3 separate regions of the Homo sapiens genome follow, and regions 1 and 3 are each reported to be linked to region 2. The links are microRNA targets in miRTarBase. Many come from high-throughput screens and were not tested one by one. Region 2 holds a microRNA gene; each other region holds the end of a gene's coding sequence. Distances are from middle to middle.
The links. Region 2 holds the annotated microRNA hsa-miR-6733-5p (UGGGAAAGACAAACUCAGAGUU, at 3,523-3,544, opposite strand). A microRNA usually pairs through its seed, bases 2 to 8, with sites in the 3' UTR of a target mRNA and lowers its output. Matches are read on the target gene's strand: a 7mer-m8 pairs with bases 2 to 8, a 7mer-A1 pairs with bases 2 to 7 and ends in A, and an 8mer does both.

Region 1: miRTarBase lists E2F2 as a target of hsa-miR-6733-5p. Seed matches in the 3' UTR shown: 7mer-A1 at 2,024-2,030, 7mer-m8 at 2,821-2,827 and 8mer at 3,706-3,713.
Region 3: the mRNA of LDHD is a reported target of hsa-miR-6733-5p. The part of its 3' UTR that is shown has no 7-base or 8-base seed match.

Annotation. Positions count from the first base shown.
Region 1 is chr1:23,505,650-23,510,708 of GRCh38, reverse strand. It overlaps E2F2 (E2F transcription factor 2), which reads left to right. Exons shown (of 7, transcript NM_004091.4): 7 at 561-4,271. The coding sequence ends at 829. Among named protein-coding and RNA genes, the nearest start is that of E2F2, 23 kb to the left of the region's middle.
Region 2 is chr1:43,168,164-43,173,233 of GRCh38, forward strand. MIR6733 (microRNA 6733) reads right to left here and starts at 3,549; the gene lies at 3,489-3,549. EBNA1BP2 (EBNA1 binding protein 2) reads right to left here and starts at 4,127. Exons shown (of 9, transcript NM_006824.3): 1 at 3,890-4,127; 2 at 3,723-3,806; 3 at 3,316-3,488; 4 at 2,593-2,716; 5 at 776-865. The coding sequence starts at 3,955. It overlaps CFAP57 (cilia and flagella associated protein 57), which reads left to right and starts at 4,167. Exons shown (of 23, transcript NM_001378189.1): 1 at 4,167-4,290; 2 at 4,572-4,747. The coding sequence starts at 4,591. RefSeq lists enhancers at 3,202-3,838, 3,664-3,893, 3,839-4,474, 4,024-4,153, 4,234-4,283 and a silencer at 4,394-4,593.
Region 3 is chr16:75,107,819-75,112,877 of GRCh38, forward strand. It overlaps LDHD (lactate dehydrogenase D), which reads right to left. Exons shown (of 11, transcript NM_194436.3): 9 at 5,016-5,059; 10 at 4,784-4,895; 11 at 4,046-4,703. The coding sequence ends at 4,538. ZNRF1 (zinc and ring finger 1) reads left to right here. Exons shown (of 5, transcript NM_032268.5): 5 at 1-3,176. Among named protein-coding and RNA genes, the nearest start is that of LDHD, 6.4 kb to the right of the region's middle. RefSeq lists enhancers at 1-17, 1,212-1,361, 1,392-1,471, 3,469-3,518.

The sequences.
Region 1 (5,059 bases), 20 Mb from region 2:
GTATTTGTTTTTTTGTGATTGGCTTATTTCACATAGTTTAATGTCCTCAGGGTTCATCTATGTTGTAGCATGTGTCAGAATTTCTTTCCTTTTTGGCCGGGCACAGTGGCTCAGGCCTGTAATCCCAACACTTTGGAAGGCCGATCACTTGAGGTCAGGAGTTCGAGACCAGCCTGGCCAACATGGTGAAACCCCATCTCTACTAAAAATACACAAATTAGCTGGGTGTGGTGGTGCATGCCTGTAGTCCAGCTACTCGGGAGGCTCAGGTGGGAGAATCGCTTGAACCTGGGAGGCAGAGGTTGCAGTGAACCAAGATCACAACACTGCACTCTAGCCTGGGTGATAGAGTGAGACCCGGTCTCAAAAAAATAAAAAATACATGAAAAGTTGTAGGGTTGGGTGTAGACTCTGGAAGGTGGATTTTGAGAGCACGACAGTCCACCCAGGCTAAGGAGAGAGAAGAAGGGTGCAGTCATCCAGAGAACCGGAAGTCTGTCCTCGCGTGCTGAGGAGTTGGATGCTAGGGCCAGGCGTAACCTTTGTCTGTTTGTCTCCAGTGCCAGCACCAGCGCCAACCCCCCAGCAGGCCCCACCGCCTCCATCCCTGGTCCCCTTGGAGGCTACTGACAGCCTGCTGGAGCTGCCGCACCCACTCCTGCAGCAGACTGAGGACCAGTTCCTGTCCCCGACCCTGGCGTGCAGCTCCCCTCTGATCAGCTTCTCCCCATCCTTGGACCAGGACGACTACCTGTGGGGCTTGGAGGCGGGTGAGGGCATCAGCGATCTCTTCGACTCCTACGACCTTGGGGACCTGTTGATTAATTGAGTGGCCCTGCCTGCCCCCAGCAGCCTGCCCCCGACTCTACCTCCTCACAGACAGGCTGACAGCCCCTCTGCCTGCACAGGGACATTGGACACTAGGTGCTGCCCTCAGGGCATGGGGTCTCCTCGCCTTTCCTGCCCCAGCCGGCAGAAGCTGTGTGGGGAGATATGAATGGTACGGGTGAGGAGTGGATAAGGGGTGGTCCTCACCTTCCTAATGGAAGCTGGGCCTAGGGAGGCCCATCCAGTCTTCTGACTTCTGACCTCTCACAAGAAGGCTGCAGGTGAGGTGGCCAAGTCCAGGGAAAGGCCCTGCTACCTCCTTTTGAGGGGTAATTAGGACCCTCGACGTACCAAGAAGCACATAATGCCTTTGTATTTATTTCAGGTTGAGTTGTTTGTTTGTCCTCCCTGAGTTTTAGCAGGGAGGTTGTTCTAGTTTTTAGTGAGACCTCTGCAGACAGGCCCATCACTGTCCATGTTCCAGGGCAGGTCTGGGTTTCCAAGGGAGGGGCCCAGGCTACATCCTTGGTTTCCCCACTGTGGTGGGGGCTGGGACTCTGAGGGGCTGTCCAGTCTGCTAGAATGCTAATTGCACTTAGGCCTCATGGTTCTAGTAAACGGCAGCTGTGGGCCCTTTTGCCTCTTCCCCTGTTCTTGGCCTCACATCTCCAGCTGAGCTGCCGGTCTTGGCTTCCTGGTCGCCTCTGTCCCAGAGATGGTCCCAGGGAGCCATCCTAGGGCAGGTAGCACTGAGGCTCCTGTGGAAACAGGAGCCACCTGCTCAGGAGACCCCTTTCCTGAGGAAGTCCTTACCTCTCCCCTTGAGATGTAAAAATGGTCCAGCAGAGACAAGCTCCCGTGGAAAACAGACAGGAGCATGGGGGCAGCTGTCATGGCTGTGGCGGGCACTTTTCCTCAGAGTTTCTGCCTTGCGCTGGTCCAGGAGCCATTTTGCACCAAGGACTTGGTAGGCAGAGGCAGCCCCACTGTAAAGAAGGGTCAGATTAAAACAAAAAACTGCCAAAAGCATCCCCTCTGCCCCCCATGTGGCACTGGCATCATTCTCTGCTTCCCTGGGAGGAATTTTTTCACCATGTTATTGAAGGGGATGGTTCATTAAGGACTCCACCCCTCAGAGCTCACTCAGACCCCAAGGACAGAGGTGACTGGGGCTTGGTGACTTGTTCACTCCTTTTTTCCCAGGTATACTGAAGGGGTGACAGAGAGAGGTCTTCATGGCAGACCAGGCCTTCACAGCTAATGGGGAGAGGAACTCATGTTACCTCTGCAGGCCTGGGGTCCTGAGGGGGTCTTTTGGCTTCAGCCTGTTCCCCCAGAGGCTTGATCATCCCACATTGTCCCTTCAGCTCAGCTGCTCTTCTCCCCCACCCACCCTGGGATGTGGGTGCTCTGGGCTGAACCAAGGCTATGACTTCTGGAGAGAGGCTCAGGGGTTGGTCTGAGAGGCCTGCCATCCACCCCTCAGGGAGCTAGGTTTTCTCAGAGGCTCAGCTGGACAGCACTTTTTAGAAAAGTTTGTAGCATTAAGCTGGTTTAAAATATGAAGTTGGTTTTGTTGGATGGCTCCTGAGCTGACTGACTGATGTCTGAAGTTTGAGACGAGGGATTATTTCAGGGTGGGGCCCAATGTGATCTAATGCCCAGCTGGGGACAATTGTGCCTCATCATTTGCTCAAATTCCTGGGCCCCCAAGTTAGCCCCCTCCCAGGAGTGGTCAGCGGGTCACAGCTGCCCCCACTCTATAAGCAGGGCTAATTGTGTACCCTTTGCAGAAATGCTTTTGGTCTCCTACCCAAATACTCACAAGGGTCTTATCAGACGCCCGTCTTAAAGTCCAGCATGCTCAGGGACCCTGTGTAGGATCTCGTTTGTGGTGAGTGGGCTGCTCTGAGGTCTCCACTGGGCTGCCATTTAGCCATGTGCCATCTCTGAAGTCAGAGGTGTTTGACTCCCATTCCTTGGGCTCTGGAGCTTTCCCCAAGAATTACATCAGAGAAAAGGAAGAAGGGGCCTGCAGGACCCATTGGGAATGAGTTTAATACTGAAGTCTGGAATGTAAGCTCATGCCCTAGAGGCCTCTCCATATGGCTGGTCAGGGGAGCTGCCTTCAGGCTTGTGCCCCGTGTGCTCAGCAGCTGCCTCTGTCCCCCTCTACTGTCCCTTTCACACCTTGCCTGGCCAAGGGGCTAGACCTCCCAGGCTAAGCCTCAGATTCAGTGCAGGACACAAGCTCATGCCCCCGTCTTGCCAGTGACACTTGAAGCCTCCCGACTTCCACAGAGTGCTTCAGGACACATTTTGAGTGGTATTTTCTTTTCTTTTTTTCTTCTTTTTTTTTTTTTTTGAGATGGAGTCTCGCTCTGTTGCCCAGGCTGGAGTGCAGTGGCCTGATCTCGGCTCACTGCAACCTCTGCCTCCCAGGTTCAAGCGATTCTTCTGCCTCAGCCTCCAGAGTAGCTGGGACTATAGACATGCACCACCACGCCCGGCTAATTTTGTATTTTTGGTCGAGACGGGGTTTTGCCATGTTAGTCAGGCTGGTCTTGAACTCCTGACCTCAAGTGATCCACCACCTCGGCCTCCCAAAGTGTTGAGATGACAGGCACGAGCCACCAGGCCCAGCCTGAGTGGTATTTTCTTTAGGGACCAGGTAGACTTTAAAACGAGGGTAAGAGAAAAGCCAGTGTCTTTCTGAGGTAAATAATTTCTGCCAGGAAACTTCCCAGCCCCACCAGCAGCCCCCCTAAAAAAATCACTCGTGTCCCCAGGGACTTCTAAAGCTTGGGGCTCCAGGAAATCATCCAGTAGAGTTGGAGATTCAGAGATTTCTTGAAGCCAGGGACATGCTCCTAACTCCTTTCCCATTAAAGGTGTTAGAATAGACCAGAGGGTGTCCCTTTTCCACAGTAATGGGATCGGCTGGTGTGCCTTCAGGGAGGAAGAGGGAGGTGGTCAAGCTTGAAAAACTGGCTTTAGGATGGTTCTGACTTTGTTCTCCCTCCCCAAGTGTTCTCAACCTCCATTCTGCAGTGTTCAGAGTTTTAGGGAAAGGGTTTGGGTGCCCCAGCATCCAGGTGTTGTGTGGCTTAGCGCATGTGAAGTGAAAACCTTCTGGGGTTGTTTGGAAGCAGCTTTCTGGTTCTTGTGATTGTATCCTGAGGTCCCAGAACCCTATTCTCCCACGAGGATCCTCAGTGACCATGGTGGCCACACGCCTGGCCAGCCTGCTGGCTCCTGGGTGAGCTGAAGAACCTTGCCTGTGGCACTTTTCGAGGGTGAGCTGGAACCGAGAGAACATGGTCCCCGTGCTGGGACTCATGCGGGTCATTTCCTGCCGGCCTGGTTTCGCCTGGTCGTGTCTTTATGAGCACCATGTAAGCCTCCTTGTATTGAGATAATTGGGCATTAAACATTAAACTGCAGCTCTGGGCATCTTGTCTTTGTCGTGCTTTCTGAAGCTCATTACCAACTGTGGATCTGGTCCCCGCAGGCTGGGTGTTGGGGGCTGTCCTGGCCAATGCTGGGGGCACATGATTGCCCAGTGGATTTCCCTCCAAGATACAGTCTCTTATCACCATGCCTGCAATCTCACCATTAAGGCACTGAAAAGTTCGCAGCACCCAGATCTAAAATGTGATCAGCCCTGACTCTGTCTCCCCCATCTATTTCCACAGCTTCCTGAAAGGTCTTGCTGCCCACACTCTCCCTCCCACCCTCTACATCAGTGGGTCCAACTGTAGTCCTCAGACCAGCAGCAGCAGTATCACCTGGAAATGTGAGACATGCATATTCAAGACCATGCCTCACGCTGGGTGCGGTGGATCACTTGAAGTTAGGAGTTCAAGACCAGTCTGGCCAGCATGGTGAAACCCCATCTCTGCTAAAAATATAAAAAAATTAGCCGGGCTTGGTGGCGGGTGCCTGTAATCCAAGCTACTGAAGAGGCTGAGGCAGGAGAATCGCTTGAACCCAGGAGGCAGAGGATGCAGTGAGATCACACCACTGCACTCCAGCCTGGGCTACATAGTGAGACTCTGCAAAAAAAAAGGCCAGGTGCAGTGGCTCACGCCTGTAATCCCAACACTTCGAGAGTCCAAGGCGGGCGGATCGCAAGGTCAGGAGATTGAGATCATCCTGGCTAACACAGTGAAACCCCGTCTCTACTAAAAAAATAAAATAAATTAGCGGGCATGGTTGCAGGCGCCTGTAA
Region 2 (5,070 bases):
CAGGATCCCAGCCTATTCCTACTTTGCTGAGAATGTATCAGTGAAATGACTCCAAACGTGGACAAGAGTTCTGCAGCCCAGATCACAAGTGCTTATGTCCAAATGTTGACGAAGTCTTAACACCCACACCAATCTTCCTCACATTCATTTCTTCCCACAATCCTAACTTTAAAATCTGTCATCTTCTTTCTTAGATGACCATGAAATAAAAAAGGAAAACCAAGAAAAGTTTTAGGGTATGCCTGATCTGGTGTTACATTAGAACTCAGACATTCATAGTTCAAACACGCAGGCAATCTTTCAGATTGGATGACAATCATTATGATAATTTCTTCAGGTACGTGATTATCACATAGATCAGTGAATCCCAAACCAGGATGCATTTCAGAATCACCTGGAAAGCTTTTGGGGAAGAGGGGAAAACAGGCACAGATTCCTGGGGATTCTGAAGTCTAGAATTCTGTTTTGAAAAATTTCCCCTGGTGATTTTGCTATAAGGTCAGGTTTGGAAACCACTCATCTGGACCCAGTGTACAGATGTGAAAACTAACGCCCAGAGAGGTGATTGGCTCACCTGCAGTCACCATACTACTCCTGGGGAACCACTCATGTCCAGGCAAGATTGTGCTCATGAATACCAGCACATACACTGAGAGACGGTAAATACATGATCAACACACAGTTCCGTTCAGTTCAGGGGACCAAGTCAGACCACGGCAATCTCATCTAACACACACTCCGCCTCTTCCTGTTCCCTGCACACTTTTCTTCTCACCTTCTTCCCGTATTTCCTAAGTGCTCGCAGTTGCTTAGCTTTTTCAGACCTCTCCATGGCAGCCTGTTTAGTCTGCAGCTTCTGTCGAATCTACAACACAAAATGCTGTCAGTTCATGTCATTTGAATCTGGAATGACCACTACTTAGGATTCGCTAGAGCAGGGAACAGATATTCCCTGTTCTTTAAACTGCGGAACTTATAAATCATCAGTTCCAACCCCTGAGGACAATGGGGCCCACAGGCTGAGCACTTTACCAAAAGTGCCAGAGTGAAGCCAGAGATTGAAAGTCACCTTCCCGCTCCCAGTGTGCTGTCTGTTTCATTATACAAACTGCCTATTTGTAGCCCAGGAAAGAAGACAAACTTCTCCCCATTTCTACTGTCAGTAGACTGAGGCTGGAAACCAGTATGCGGCCTCAGTGTCCTTTTCTAGTATACCACATACACAATAAAAACCCAGGCAGATACCAGGTGCCTAGCCTTTTCAGTCAAACATACACATTTTAGTTAAAGGATGAGAAGTTGTCAGTGAGAATTTGTACAGAGTTCACAGTAAGAAGGTGAACTACTACCACGACAAAAGCTCCCTAAAATCCAGCTTGAGACCCCAGGGTACTATTTAAATATACTTATCCCTCAGTATCCATAGAGGATTAGTTCTAGGACCCACTACAGATATCAAAATCCACAGATGCTCAAGTCCTTTATATAAAAATGGTGCAGCATTTGCATATAACCTACACTCGCCTCCAGTATCCTTTAAAGTCAGAGGACCTCAACTCCCAGGCCACAGACCGCTACGAACCCACTATGAATCTGTGGCCTGTTAGGAACCAGGCCGCACAGCAGAAAGTGAGTGACAGGCAAGCAAGCATTACCACCTGAGCTCCACCTCCTGTCAGATTGGTGGTGGCGTTAAATTCTCATAGGAGTGCGAACTCTACTGTGAACTATGCATGGAACTATGCATGCAAAGGATCTAGGTTGCCTGCTCCTTATGAGAATCTAATGCCTGATGATCTGAGATGGAACGGTTTCATCCCAAAACTATCCCCTCCCCAAGTTCATGAAAAAATTGTCATCCACGAAACTAGTCTCTAGTGCCAGACCGCTTCTTTAAATAGTCTCTAGATTACTTATAATACCGAATACAATGCTATGCATCACCTCATTCTCATGGATTCAATGTAGTTCTCGGCACACGGAAAATTCAGTTTTCCTTTTGCAATATTTTCAAATTTTTTTCCCCAATATTTTTGATCCAAGGTTGGTTGAATCCACAGATGCTGAACCCATGGCTATGGAGGGCTGAATGTATGTTGGATTACATGCTGGCAATCCCTTCTTCCAAAGTTAAATGAGGTCCAAGTTCTACCCAACTCTAAATTGTACTATATCTGAACCATCTAAGAATCCCTCATTTTACAGAGGAGAAAACTGAGGCCCAGAGAAAAGTAATTGTCTACAAGTTCTAGCACTGACAGTGGCAAGGGCACAAGAATGCTGTCCTCTCTGCACACCATGTCATGACCATGCCAGCTAGGAAATGCACTGGGCCATCTTCACCTCGGGGACCACACTTCACACAGCACTGTTCCTCTCCTTAATTGCTGATTTTAGAAAAAATGTCATTTTTATATGCATCTAATTGGTGGTAACTGGCATGACTCTGAAGTAGCCAATCTATGGAAGAGGTAATAATTGTCCTCTGACAACTGGCTCCCCGTTATTGGGCTCATAGCTATCTTTCTAAGCCAGCTGAATATGCTTAAGTACAAAGTTTTGACTTTCCAGAGGAAAACTTCTATTTCTTACCTTCTGCATCTGCAGATCAGATTTGGCCATTTCCGCAAAATAATCAGTGGGTCGCTTCGTAGGGACTTTGAGCTGATGGAGGCGGGGTAAGACTGCAAGCACTGCGGCCTGGGCTTGGCGATAGCTGAGAATCGTAGGACAAAATGTGTAATGAGGTGAAGGAGGAGGCCTTACGTTCCTTTTCACCGCCAATCATGAGTTATCCAAGCTCAGAAGGACTCTCAAAATCTGACCTCCATTAGCAAGAACAAACAAACAAAAACTGTCTCACTGATTTAGTATCTAAAAGAAATGTAGCCGTATACTAGTTTTTAAAAAGGGGAGGGGTGTTGCTAAAAATAGTTTAAGAGAATGACTACTCTAAAGGTACCCATTAACACAAACGAATGTCGATTATGGATTCTTATGTAATTACTAAAGCAATTCCACACAAGAACATCCCATAAGCAATGTTTGTTTGTTTGTTTTCCTAATAACTGAAGCATGCACAAAAAGTTTTAACATGAATATTTCAAATTAGCCCATAAAGTGGATTTTGGATCGTGACCGTGGACCAAAGAGCTCTTCTCTCAAACAGGAAGAATCTCCTAGCTATTCTTAGTCAAAAGAAGCCGCTCTCTCTACTCCTAGGCTTATTCTGAGTGCAGACTTACTAATTTCCCCTCTTTCCCACTCTCCTGCACAAGGATCCTCAACTTCTCCAACATTTGAAAACAAACATACAAACTCATCTCTCGCTGGAAGTCGTCTTCTGGATCAACAGCTTTCTGGTCCTTGTTCTGAGGTGCTGGCGCCTCAGATCCACCGATCTCCGGTACCGGACCCAGTGTCACATCGAGCCTTTCAACCCATTCCAGATCCCGCTTGAATTCTGCCAAACATTGCTTCAGGCCATTCTAGGAAATCCAGACACTGAGCTCACAAGAAGGGAACTCTGAGTTTGTCTTTCCCAAGCACAGGCTGTTAGGCGAAGGGACAAAGTGCTAATCCCCAATACCCAGACAGGTAATTGACCCTCTTGGCGAGGCGCAGGGTGCATCTTTCCTGGGACAAGAATCGGTCTCCCAAGCCCAACAGCGCCTGAAGCGCATCCCATGTCCGAGTACCCCCGACCCTGTGCCCACGCTCACCACGTCGTTCACGGCCTTCTTCGGCCCCTCTAGCACGACATTGAGGCCTGGCTTCAGAAGCCCTCGGGAAAACGCATCCTGCAACTGCAGGACACAATCACGGTCACTCCCAGGGGTGTAAGGCCCCCTCTCCCACGCCCAGCCCCACGAGCTCGGCTGACACCTACCTCTCTGTCTGTGACAAGGGATTCATCGGATTCCGACTCCGAATCCGAGAGCGGGGGAGTGTCCATCTCGCCGCACGCACGTCCCACACCTACAGGAAGAAACGGGGTATCCCGAGACCCAAGCGGCTAGCAGAGGGCGGCCCTGGCCGCTGCTGCCTGCCTTCAGCCCCCTACTCCCACGCCGTGGCTCCACGTGCCACCGAATCGCTCCAGCGCCAGCAACTCACAGCTACTGCTCAACTTTTGATTGGGACTTCCGCTTCCGGCGGCAAACCATACTTCCGGTTTGTCGTTGCTATAGGAACCGCTACGGCGTTTGAAAGTGTCCGGGTTGCTTAGGATCCCTACAGGTAGCGCCTCTGGATACATGCGTGGTCTGCTGACCCAGAGAGAAACGAAAGGTGGGAGGGGGTACCTGGGGGTCGCCAGAAGGAGCTGGTAGCAGTGAGGGTACAAAGGAAAAGGCAGAAAAAGGAGCCGCGGGGGTGGGGTGGCGCGGAGGAGGACCCCGGGGGAGGGGAAAGGGGAGGGACAAGGGGAGGGGAAAGGGGAGGGACAAGGGGAGGAGAAAGGGGAGAGACAAGGGGAGGAGCAAAGGGCGGGGAGGGCGAGTCCGGGCCGGGGGCGGGGTCGGAGCGGGGCGGTGCTCTCCACTCTGAAGCGCTGCCTTGGTCTTCAGCAGAACTGTTTGGCGGGAGATCATGTCAGCCGTGGTAGCTCAGACGCTGCATGTTTTTGGTCTTCGATCCCACGTGGCCAACAATATCTTCTACTTCGATGAACAGATCATTATATTTCCTTCAGGAAATCACTGTGTGAAGTACAATGTGGATCAGAAATGGCAAAAATTCATTCCAGGTAAAACTTTTTCCATCCTGACATATACAGGAATGGTATGTGCCACATATAACCCCATAATCCCAGCATGATGATTGGAAAGAAAGATTTTGGCCAATTTGAATATATATGCAGTATTATAAATGTAGAGGAAATAAATGGCGACTTGTATTATGAAACTAGATTAATCAGTCACGCATATGTAGTTAAAATCACATATAAAATGTTAATTTAAAAGTACTTTTTTCACTGTAATTTCATGAAAATATGTTAAGAACCCCTCTTTTGGTGTCTTCAATATCACTGCCTTTGTCATCACCAGAGCCACTTTTTGAGTTGTCTAA
Region 3 (5,059 bases), not on the chromosome of region 2:
CTTCTGCACTGACTTCCAGATCATGGTTCTCCCTTCCTCCCTGAGGACACCAAATTGGATGAGAGCAAGTTTGAGAGAAGAATGAATCAACTGCTATCCTTCCCCTCACCCCTCAGCCCAGGAGGGAAAGGGCATTTTCTTTTTCATCTTTGAAAGGCATTGTGGGTCTGTCTTTAAAGTGTTTACAAAAAAAAATTATATAAAAAAAAAGTCTAGTGTCGACTGGTGTTTTCCCTCGTGATGTTTACAGCTTGCTGTTTGCTGCCCAGCCATAACCCACTCAGTGACAGACGAACACAGCTAAGGCCTCGCTGCCAGCCTTCTGACGGCGGGCGAGCACACGGTCTCTTCCCCTGCCCCAACTGGCCCTCTCCACCACCAACTTCTCTACTTTGGGTTTGTTTGGTTTTTTCCCTCTATTTTTCTGGCTGGTTTTTTGCTCTTTTCTCCCCTTGAGACCCTAATATCTTGACTTCATTGCCAAAAAACAACCCATTGAGAACTTTCTTCCTACTGATCCCATCTCTTTTCCCTTCTTTCCTCCTGGTTCCGGTCAGTTCAGAGGATTTAACAATCACAAGTGTCCTGCAAAAATGCCTGAACATTATTCTTAGGCCCTCGTGGATTTTTTTTTTCAGAAAACTTAAACAAAAAAAGACTTACTAAGAAATATGTACAGCTACCCCTGTTTTCAGGCACTATGTTTGAGAACATTTTAGCCATTGATGTTCACACGTGGCATCAGCCCATGCAAGATAGGTTTCTGTATTTATATATTAAAATACAAAAAAAAACTTATAAAATGTTTAAAAAAATGTTCAAAGCTTGGGAGAAAAGCTTTCTTCATTAGTCAAGGTGTTTTGATATGGTATTAAAATGTCTAATAAAAGATGGCACTGCGTGATTTTATTTTAATGAAGTGTTATACAATCAAGAAATGGGGGCAAGGGCCTGCCCCCCACTCCCTCACCTACCTCCTTAGCATTCCTTCAGGCTGCTACTCGGGGCTCCAGGTGTGTGAATTGGTCCTCAGATAGTCAGGCCTGGGTGGAGGGAGTGGCAAGTCAGGCGTGCCTCCTACAAGCTTCCTAACCTCTTAAGCATCATGGAACCAGTCAGCCCTCTGTGGAGTCATTGTGCTGGACCTCTGAAAAGATCTGCAGGGGCCAAGATGTTGCAGCCACCGGAGGCTGCAAGGATGTGGGTTCTTCCAGGTGTGGGCCCAGCCCCCCTCCTTCCAGCCTTTGCTCCCCATCCCACGTTCCACTCGCCCTGCCTGTTGTTCAGTTTGCGTCTCAGTGCTGACTCACGGGCATGCTTCATTGAGGCCCAGGAAGAGGCCCTGGTTTGGGGCTGTGCCAGCTCAGAGCCCTTGAACCAGAACCAACTGCTCAGGCTCACAAAAGTTGGCAAAATGCGGGCTGGGCAGGCAGCTCGGGGCAGGGAGCAGCAGTGCAGGCCTGGCCTGTGTCCCCGTGCCCAGCGGGCTCCCGGAGCAGCATTCCAGAGCCTCCTGCAGAGCCAGCGAAGGAAAGCTCTAGAGGGAGACGACTCCACCGCCTCTCTGCTCTGACCCTTCTCAGGCCCGCCTGATGTGCTGGACCATCCCCCTGCTGCCACGGCCCCTGGCTCCGCAGTCACCCTCCATCAGATGCTTCCAGAAGCACCTACTCTGTGCAAGGGCATTCACAACAGGCCAGTGGGCAAACGTGAGCCAGGGCCAGCGGAGAAACACTAAAGAAGACTCGGTGGTTCAGAGCCTGGGTCTCAGCGCGGGACCCGTCTGGGGTGAAGACCTTGGGGCTGTTGTGAGTCGGTGGCAGGAACGTGGGCTCTAGACTGTGCATTCAGGCTCTCCTACTTGGCAGAATGATCTTGGGGAAACGACTTCATCTGAACTTCAGATATTTCACATGTGAAGCGGGGACAAAACCATGCAGCTCAGAGGTCCCTGTGGGGGCTGGGGGAGCTGCCCTGCAGGTCTTGGCACATGCACAGCAGGCTCCCCATAGCTTTGTCACCACAAAGGGCACTGTTCTATTCACAGCACCTCCTGCTTCTGCCTGGCAACTGTGTCTCCCTGTGCTATATTTAATTCCACCAGCAAAGCTGGCGAGGCAGGGCCCAGCCCTGAAGGAGATCTCCTTGCCTGACCCCTGGACCTGGAAATGGAGGCTTCATGTGCCCGCCTTGGCGGCTTAAGCCTGCTGCTTTGGCAGTGCCATGGGTGAGCCGAGCAGCTGTGAGGTGGGTGGGGCAGGGCTGTAGCCCACGCCGGGTGCTATTCCAGGCTCTAGGGGCTGGTGCTCATCCCCACCCCCAGCGACTTCCGTCCTACCTGGCATGCTGCAGCCCTCTGCCGGCTGTGGTGTCCTCTGAATTTGGACCCAGGTTGCCTGCTCTTGTTGTGGGGGTGGGATTGGGGCTGTCTGTGTTTCCCAGGTGGAGCTCATGTTTGTGATCCTCTATCTGGACAGCTCTCCAGAATCCTGTGTTGCCCCTGTTCTGCCTTTCTGGGATGGGAGAGAAGGTGAGGGAGCCGGCGAGCAGGTTCTACCCTCTCTGCTAAGGGCCTAGCACACTTTGATGAGGTTCCTGGACGTGAGACCCTCACAAAGACCAACCATTCCTCTAATAGCCATTTAACGGTACTGCAGTTCATGGGAAAATGTCCTCATTCTTAGGAGATAGATGCTGGATTATATAGGTGAATGCCTTCAAGAAATGTGTAATTTAATTCCAAATAGTTCCCCCCAAAATACACAAAGCAAATAAGGCCAAAATGTTCATTGTTGAATCTGCAGTGGCTGGTATTTCAGTGAACAGTGTACTTGTTCTTTCAACTTTTCTGTATGTTTGGAATTTTTCTTAATAAAAGATTGTGGGAAATGGTCATTTGCTGAGCGCCTCCTAGTTGCCAGGCACTGGAGGGCGCATCAAAGAAGAGTCCTACCCAGGAGGGAGAGCGCAGCTGCTGCAGGATTCTCGCCTGGAAGAGTGGGTGGCTGGCTGGCTGGCTGGAAGGGGAGGGGCGAGAGGGCTGTCTCGGTGATGAGCACACGCGTGCTGGGGTGGTTTGGGGAGAGGGCTGAGATTTGTCACCAGTGAGCCCTTGGCACGGTCTCTGCTCCCCACCAGGGCAGCACGGGACAGAAACGTCACGGAGGAGTAGCCTCCAGGCTCAGGTTGGTGTAACTGCTGTCGGCTGGAGCCCAGTATTAGCACGGAGGAGGGGTTCCAAGAACTGAAGTTGGACTGGGGCGTCTCAGCGCAGCTGCCTCTGCCTAAGGCCTAGCAGCCTGCCTGAGCACTGACAGCTGATGGGAGGAGGAGAGGGGCGGAGGCCAGGGAGGGCGTGGGGTGTGACATGCCTCTTTCCAAAAGGGACCGAAGGCTAGAGGGGCAAGGAAGATGAGACAGCACTGCAGGTTCCTGGGACCTGCAGGGGATGGAGGACTAGCTTGGCTTCCAGGCTGCCAGGACTTACCTGACCCTAGGAGGAGGTTTGCCCAGGGCTGAGTGCCGCAGGCCCTGGGCAGAGGAGTCGTGAGCTGCAGATGCCGCGTGGTATCTGAGCTTCATGATTTCGGGCGCCCTCCTGTGGGCTTAGGGGGGAACAACTGCCAAGGTCTCAAGACGGGCTCCGGCCCAAGACAGGGGCAGGCCCTCGGGTGGACAGACCTTGAGGGCAAAACAGCTGGTGGTACGATACATCACCCCATGAAGAGGTGGGTGCAAAAATAGTCTCATCTCTGTTTCTAGAGACGTGGCAGCTGCTGAGGAACACATTCAGTGTGTTCAGAGGCCCGGTTCAGGCCCAGTTGGGGAGCCCATCCTGAGTGACATGTGCCGTGGGCAGGTCCTCAGCTCTGAGGCGGAGTAGCTGGGACAGGGACCTGGGTTCCTTTCCGAACCCTGAGCACCAACCTCCTCCCCAGGCTATAAGAAGTCAGAGGACAGCCCCAAAACAAAGGGGTCACTGACCAAAGGACAGAGACCCTGGAGGGGGAGGGGAGGAAGTGCTGCCTGCTGACTTCCAGGTAGCTGTAGGTGGGTTTCAGGTTTATTACAGATTTATTGGGGGAGGCCCCAAGGAGAAGACCTATCATCATGTCACGGGAGCTCACGTTCCATACCAGGAAAGGAGTGTTCCTGTCACCAGGTGAAGGGGGAAGGGTCCTGGGACCCCGGCAGTGGGAGGCCTCGGGGAGGGGTGTCATCAGAGTCTTGAATGGACCCAGACGCTCTCTTCCCGCCAGGACAGGATGCGTAGGAGCAGAGAGGAAGCAGCTTTGCTGGGAACCACCCTGGGTCGTTTACTGAACCAAAGGCTCCTGGGGCCAGCCAGAGGGCCAGGGAGGTAACACGGTGCTCAGGCTTCTCTCTGGGCCCTCTGGCCTTGGGCCCAGATACAGTGGGCTCGCTGGCAGGAAGACTGCCTCAGCATCTATTTCCTTGCAGGGGCCGTGGCATGAAGAAAAGTTCCAGAACCGGCTCCGTAGTCAGGGAACTTGTGGGCTAAGTGCTCAGACCCCCTTCACAGCACTTTGCCTGGATTCATGAGGCCTTGGGGGTCTAGCACGGCCTTGAGCTGCCGCATGGTCTCCACGCCCACGGCGCCCACCTCCTCCTGCAGCAGCTGCCGCTTGCCCATTCCGATGCCATGCTCCCCCGTGCACGTTCCGTGGAGAGCCAGTGCCCGCCTGGGGGCAGGAAGGAGACATCCTCAGGGGGCTCCCTTTCCTCTGCCCTCAGCTCTTCCCCTCCCTGGCTTTGCTCCTACCTGCCCAGCTGTTCTGCAAAAGCCTTGACCCTGCCCAGTTCCTCGGCGTCATCAGGGTTGACCAGCAGGATGCAGTGGAAGTTGCCGTCACCCACATGCCCGACAATGCTTCCTGGGGGCCCAGAGGACAGAACTATTCTCCAGCCCAGTCCTCCTCTTGCCTCCTGCTGCCCCAGGCTCTGATCAGCCCTGACACCTCCCCACCTCTCCCCAGCAGCAGGGTGGGCAGAACCTGTGAGTCCTGAGGCATTCAGATCCTCCTTGGTCTGCACCACG